Homo sapiens: one gene and its partner. The protein of the gene in region 1 interacts with the protein of each later gene in a pairwise test. Each region holds a gene or a part of one and is shown on either strand. Other genes may lie near its edges.

What was found.
Region 2: the proteins of ALPP (region 1) and CREB5 interact in binary tests that used the Homo sapiens proteins (3 or more experiments, as listed by UniProt).

The regions. Positions count from the first base shown.
Region 1 is NC_000002.12:232,377,203-232,380,954, reverse strand, and holds the start of ALPP (alkaline phosphatase, placental type preproprotein), read right to left. Parts: upstream 2,205-3,752; 5' UTR 2,153-2,204; coding exon 2,077-2,152; intron 2,011-2,076; exon of another isoform or gene 1,985-2,010; coding exon 1,868-1,984; intron 1,756-1,867; coding exon 1,640-1,755; intron 1,443-1,639; coding exon 1,268-1,442; intron 1,192-1,267; coding exon 1,019-1,191; intron 770-1,018; coding exon 635-769; intron 536-634; coding exon 463-535; intron 333-462; coding exon 198-332; intron 116-197; coding exon 1-115. UniProt on the Homo sapiens protein: Alkaline phosphatase that can hydrolyze various phosphate compounds.
Region 2 is NC_000007.14:28,803,866-28,807,517, reverse strand, and holds part of CREB5 (cyclic AMP-responsive element-binding protein 5), read right to left. Parts: intron 3,320-3,652; coding exon 2,996-3,319; intron 1-2,995. UniProt on the Homo sapiens protein: Binds to the cAMP response element and activates transcription.

The DNA.
Region 1 (3,752 bases):
GTGTCCTCCTCGCTGGTGAGCTGGCCCGCCCTCTCAATGGCGTCGTCGAACATGATCGTCTCAGTCAGTGCCCGGTAAGCCCTGCTTTCATGATGACCATGGTCGATGCGACCACCTGCAGGAAGGCCAGAGGGGGGAGATGCTGAGCCTGCCCTGCTCCAACCCCCAACCCCCACTCCCCAGGGGCCACCACGCACCCTCCACGAAGAGGAAGAAGCCGCGGGGGTTCCTGCTCAGCAGGCGCAGGGCAGCCTCTGTCATCTCCATCAGGGAGGGGTCCAGTGTGGAGTCTCGGTGGATCTCGTATTTCATGTCTCCAGGCTCAAAGAGACCTGTGGGACAAGGGGTCCTGTGGTGACTGGCAGGCTGGGGGTGGGCGGGTGCTGGCGGATGTGCACACAGGCTCAGAAGGTGCCATCTGAGGCCATCTGAGGGATGCCAGGGCAGGAAGGGGGTCATTACCCATGAGATGGGTCACAGACGGGTCCAGGGAAGCCTGCATGAGCTCAGTGCGGTTCCACACATACCGGGCACCCTGTGGGGAGGGAGAGAGCCAGGCCTCAGCCCACAGCCCTGAGCCCCACACCTCTGCCCTCCCCCTGCTGTGCCCCCTGCACCCGCCAGCCCCCATCACCTGGCGCTTCGCCAGCCATTCCTGCACCAGATTCTTCCCGTCCAGCCTGGTCCCACCTTGGCTGTAGTCATCTGGGTACTCAGGGTCTGGGGTTCCCATGCGAAACATGTACTTTCGGCCTCCACCTAGGATCACCTGGGAACAGAGGATGGGGCAGGTGGATTTGGGGCCCTGGCTGGCCCCGTGCCCCCTCCTCATGCACAGCCCCTGACTCCCCTCCCCAAGGCTGTGGGAATGGCCCAGCCTGGGCTGCACCTTCTACGCCCACAACCCCACCTCCAGACCCTGCTGGCCCAGATAAGGCTTTTGGTTGCCTGGGTCTGAGCTAGTGCCCCCTCCCTGCTACTCTCTGCCCAGCCCCAGCCCTTGGCCTGGGGGTCGCACGTCAATGTCCATGTTGGAGATGAGCTGCGTAGCGATGTCCTGGCACCCCTCCTGGCGGGCGGAGGCAGGCACGTCGGCGTCCGAGTACCAGTTGCGGTTCACCGTGTGGGCGTAGGTGCCGGCTGGCGAGGCGTGCTGCACTCGTGTGGTGGTTACCACTCCCACTGACTTCCCTAAGGGTGTCAGAGGTCAGTATATGTGACCAACGTCTGTGACCTGGCCGTGACCCAGCAGCGGGCCCCAGCTCACCTGCTTTCTTGGCCCGATTCATCACGGAGATGACCTCGTTGCCGCGTGTCGTGTTGCACTGGTTAAAGCGGGCGGCTGCACTCAAGCCAATGGTCTGGAAGTTGCCCTTGACCCCGCACAGGTAGGCCGTGGCTGTGGCTCCACTGTCTGGCACATGTTTGTCTACATTGTATGTCTGGGGACAGAGACACTCTGAGCTCTTCTCTGGGGCAGACACGGAGACCCAGACCCTGATCTCTGTCCTCTGGGATTCCAACTGCCTCTAACTCCTTACTGGAGCCCCAGCTGTTTAGGGTCCCTCCCTCCTACCACACTCCATAGCCAGGATTCCCCTTCTGTGCTTGGAGGACTCTAAGGTAGCCCAGCACTTACCTTGGACAGAGCCACATATGGGAAGCGGTCCATGGCCAGGGGTATCTCAGGCCCCAGTTTGTCCTTCTTCTGCCCTTTTAGGATCCTGGCAGCTGTCACCGTAGACACCCCCATCCCTGAAGGAACAGAAATGTGTGAGGCTTGGGCCCCAGGGCTCTCCTGGAACCACTGAGGGTCCGGGCGCCGGGGCTGTGAGGGCTGCAGGGCTGGAAGGCCTGGCTCACTCACCATCGCCCAGGAAGATGATGAGGTTCTTGGCGGCTGTCTGTGCAGGCTGCAGCTTCTTGGCGGCACCCAGGGCCTCGGCTGCCTCGCGGTTCCAGAAGTCCGGGTTCTCCTCCTCAACTGGCCAGGGGGAGAGCAAAAATCAGGTCAGCCTGGGCTGGGGGGTGCCCTGTGTGTGTGTTGTGTAGGGGCAGCTCGGGGAGCCTCATTACCTGGGATGATGCCCAGGGAGAGCTGTAGCCTCAGGCCCAGCAGCAGCAGCAGCAGCAGCATGCAGGGCCCCAGCATGTCTGGAGGGCAGCAGGACAGTGGCGAGGCAGGAATTCTGGGCATGGAGTATGAGCTGCACTCCAGGCTGCCCGGGTTTAAATCAGGGAGAACTGTGTCCCGGCTTCTCCCCTCGTTGCCACCTTGACCCTGCCCAGCCTCTTGACCTGAAGCCACACTGGCTGAAGGGAGTGGCAGGGTGTGGCTGGGCTGGGCCGGGCTGGGGCTGGGGTCCTGAGAAAGGCAGCTCAGGTTGGGACCAGGTGTCCCCCAGGGAAGGGTGCGGTATTGAGTACAGATGCCATTTGGGTGAGTGTGGTGTGCCTCCCGCAGCCAGGAGCCCCTCCCCCAACCCCTGCTCACTGTGTCTTGTGTGGAACAAGACACCCTGTCACTGGATCATTCACCCATTTTTTTCTATATTTCCCAGAAGCTGGGGCCAGGCTGTGTTCTGGTGTCGAGAGGAGGGGAGGCTGGAAGCACACAGTCTGGGCCAGGGCCTGGGTTCAGCCTCCTGATGCCAGGAGCCTGGGCCCTGTGGGAAAGGGGCACGTGGGGGGCTTTGCTGCCCTGGCACCCCCTTGCTCCATCATCTTACCTTGGCCTGGACAGGTGGGGCTGGCAGGAATCTGGGCCCAGAGCTCTAGGGCTGTGGGCAGCTGTGGGGCCAATGGTGACAGCACTGAGTGGGGCCGGACCAGTCCTGCCCATTGCTCACATGTTGTGTGTGATTGTGTATGTGTTTGTGTGGGTGCACTCACACTAATGTTTGGACGACGCAGGTGGGGAGTCCACCCCAGCCCAACCACAGCAGCCCCTTCTCCACTCATGCTTGCTCGCCCCGAGCCCCAGGCTTGGCCCCCAAAACCCAGGGGACCTCACCTGCTGCTCAGCCTCTGCCTTCCCCGCACCACTCCCCACCACCCCCACGGGCCTCCCCTCAGGCCGAGCTTTCTGGAGTCCTCCTGCCTGCCCCCCGCCTGGCTTCCTGCTGGTCGTCCTGGGGCTCTCAGGGAAGATGTCACCCTCATGGGGACATTCCTTCCTCCTGCTTATTGCCCCCTTAGTTCCTTCTACCTCCTGCTTCATCTTGCTGAGTTAGGAAATTTCTGGGCTAAATTTCAGAGGAGACTCACTAACAGGCAGGCCCTTAATTAATTCATTGATTCACTCTAAAGTCAAGGCCAGTCAGGAGCTTTTGCCGCCACCCCACAATTATTTTTCGAGCTGGAATCTTTTGGTTTTGGAGACAGGGTCCCATTCTGTCAGCCAGGTTGGAGTGTGATGCCTGAGTTACGGCTCCCTGCAGCTTCGGACCTCCCAGGCTCAAGCAATCTTCCCACCTCAGCCTCTCACGTAGCTGGCACCAATGGCATGTGCCACCACACCTGACTCATTTTTTATTTTGTGTAAAGACATGGTTTTGCTATGTTGCCCAGGCTGGTCTCGAACCTCCACCTCAGCCTCCCAAAGTGTCTGGATTTACAGACATGAGCCACTGCGCTCACCTTCCTCTTTTTTTTTTTTTTTTTTTTTTGAGGCAGGGTCTCATTTGTCACCAGGCTGGACTGCGGTGGCATGATCATGGCTCACTGCCTCAGCCTTAGCCTCAGCCTCCCCA
Region 2 (3,652 bases), on another chromosome or scaffold:
GGCCCAGGGTTGAGGTTGAACTGCATCTTAGTAATTTTATGCAAAGCAAAGACATTTTCTTTTTTTCTTGAGACGGAGTCTCTCTCTGTCGCCCAGCCTGGAGTGCAGTGGCGCGATTTCGGTTCACTGCAACCTTTGCTGCCCAGGTTCAAGCGATTCTCCTGCCTCAGCCTCCCAAGTAGCTGGGATTACAGGTGCCTGCCACCATGCCTGGCTAATTTTTGTAGTTTTTTAGTAGACACAGGGTTTCACCATCTTGGCCAGGCAGGTCTTGAACTCCTGACCTCGTGATCCACCCGCCTCAGCCTCCCAAAGTGCTGAGATTACAGGCGTGAGCCACCGCACCAGGCCAGCAAAGACATTTTCTAGAACTGTTTGTTTGTTGGTGACTCTTTTCCTCCCGATTATAGAGGAATAACAAAATAAATTAACTGTCTAAGGTCTTACTCATCAGAGTTGCTAGTGAAGGCGTCATCCTTGTTATTGGCAGGGGCTTAGCACTTGTCATTCCAGATGCTAATTCCTGAGCTAACTACTGCAAAGAAAAGCATTAAGAGGGAATGTGCTAACTGCTCGGATATTTTTGCCTTTAACTGTTTCCTTTTGTGAATTATAATCTCTTATTGCCAGCCCCAGACAAAACCCTCAAATAGGAAAAAATTGATTTTTAATCTCCATTGCAGGGACTTATCTTTCAATTCTGTATCCTCCTACCCTAAGTTTAATCAACCTGTAACCCATGATACTTTTCCTGTGCCTTCACCCAAAGGCATAAGTGACGTGGTTTCAGGTGTAATTAGGTTCAGGATTGATTAAGAGAAATTCCTTGAAACCAGCACTCTACAATCACATCCTTACATGCAGGAGGAGCACAAGAAGCCAGGAGAAAATGCAAATACAACCCTAAAACCAGAATTTGTATACCTGGTAATTATTGTCGCTTGTAATTTTATTTTTAAAGCAGAATTCTCTTGGCATAGATGCTCTGAAAATTTTGATCAAAAGTAATAAATTATAATTTCAAAAAGGCAGATTTTATTCCAAATCACCTTAGAATCTCAGAGTTCAAAGGATTCTATTCCTACTTTCAGATAATCATACAATTAAGCAAAATGGCAAGATCTCAGTAATCAGCCAAGTTAATACAATTTAAGAGTGGTATTTTGGGATACTGCCTAAATGATCTGGTTCAAATTTTAGCAAGACCAACCTGGGCTCTTTCTTTTTAGCATACAATTAAAAAAAGCAACTGTTCATAAAGCTAATTATAATAGCAATTAACTAATTGCATATACTATTGGCCACTTACTGACTTGAAACAGAGGGCAATTGGCTAATTGGTAATTAGCTAGTGAATGGCTTTTATATTCAAAGAATTGTTATATAACTTGCTCTGTGAAATAACTTGCCCATAAAGGCAACCAAACCTTGATGTTCTCGTTTCCTTATAAACTAAGTACAAATGTGAATCAATTTGCCCATCATTGACTTTGTAGTTTTTTTTTTTCTTTCTAAATACATGTTCTAGTATGGCGTTTGACTAAAAATGTGACTAAAAATGTTCTCTGGATAGCATTTGATTGCTATACAATTTGCTAAACTTCTACTGGTTTGGAATAACATATTTTGAACACTGTGTCAAGGGCTTTACAGAGATTCTCTTATTTAATACTCATAAGAGCCTAGGAGTTTAGTCTACTATTACCCAGCCCCATTTTACAGATGGGAAAACTGAGGGGTAGAGAGGTTGTTTCTGTTCACAATCACACAGTGAGGAAGGCAGGAAAAAAATTAAGGTTATCTCATTCTAATGCTCAATTCTTATTCACAATGTAGAACACCTCTAAGAACCTTGCAAAAGACAGTTTATCTAATGAATAGCTTCGAGAGTTGCTTGTGCCTGACCCATTCTGTGGATGGCTGTCCAGGTTTGGTGCATGTTAATGGAGGGGGGCTCAAGAGTTCAAAAAGCTGCCGGGTATAAAGTCACGTCTCCAGAGGCAGATGACAGAGGAGACAGTGAATAAGTGTTTTTTGGCGGTTCCATGCTTCCGACACCCTTCTGATTCAGCTGGTTGGAAGCTGGCAGTGTGGACTGGGTGGAAGGTATGGATGAAAGTCATTCTGCTTGAGGATCCAAAGTGTCTAGGCCCAGCCATGCTCCTGGACATGCCCTTCATCCACTTACTAAAACTCACTCCAGTACAGGACTCGCCTCTCTTCTTGGCCGTGGGTGACATAATGTCTGCCTGGTCCCCCAACCCTCTTTCAGTTTTGTCTAAATGCTGGCTTTCTTTGCAGCCACTCCTGGTGACTCTCACCCACTGGGATTTGGCCTTTCTCTTGGTCTGATCATCTACAGAACTTGGCTCTCTTTCTGTTCCCTCCAACGCATTTCTCATTCAGGGGGATGAGTCACCTCTCTTCACCATTTACACAGCACCTTACGCCCTAGCATCCATGATGGAGCTTCTTTGTCTGCCTTGAATTGTTACTCTTTAGATTTTTAACATTCACTGTTACTCAGAAGATTGCCTGTTGTATTTAACTTCCATTTTACAGGTGACAAAATTGAGTCTCTATGATGTTTTAAAACATAGCAGCTAGAACCAGGGTTAGAATTAACTCGTTTTTCTCATTCTTAATTCACATCTTTCTTCACAAGCTTAAGTTCTTCCTAATCCATTGATTCATATTACTTTTGAGAGGGGCTAACTTTCTGACACACTGCAAAAATAGATTTTGGAGAACTTAAAGTTTATGCTTGCCCTTAGAGACTAGACCTGATATTTTTTAGTGTATTATTTATAGAAATTATGATCTGGTAGGGTCTTATGGGTAAGGCTTGCCTCCTAGGAGATAAACAGAGCCCCTAGAATGTGAGATAGAACACCTGGGCTTGTCAAACAAGATTGCTGCAAATGACCCCAGCATTAGAGCTTGCACTGTTAAGAAGGAGAATAAGAAGGGGAAAGAGATCACGGAAAAGGTCTACCTGTGCTTGGTTGCCGGTGTGCAGGGGCGGATGTGGCGAGGTCTGGTGATGTGCTGGGTGTGCATGAAGGTGGGAATGGGAGTGGTGATGTGGATGGTTCTGCTGGTGATGGGGTTGAGGGTGAGGATGGTGTGCTGGGTGCTGGTGCTGGTGTGGGTAAGGGTGATGGGGTGGCAGTGTCTGGTGCTGATGCGGGTGCGAGTGCATGTGATGGTGTGGCGTCTGGTCCTGCCGGGAGCCCATCATCTCCATCATGTGTCCCATGGTGTTCATGTTCCCATTTGACATGGCAGCAGGGTGGTGAGTCAATGCAGCCTTCAACCTCTGAAACAGAACAAAAGGGAGGAGAGAGAACAACTGAAGTCAGTCATGTACATGATAGAGATTTAAAAGCAAAATGACTCACATTTTCAATTCTATATTTTACGATGCTATTGTTAATGTTTCCTACCAGTAGCTATCTTGCTACCAGTACAAGATAGCTTTTATATTAATTTCATATTTTCTTATATATCGTGGTCAGTAGGAGGGTCAATGTCAGCCAAATAGGTTAATTCAACTGTCAAAGCCAATGGGCAGGATATCCTATCAAGAATCATACATTCTACTAAAAGGTATTTCCTATTATCCAATCATGCATTATATCGTATCTACAAC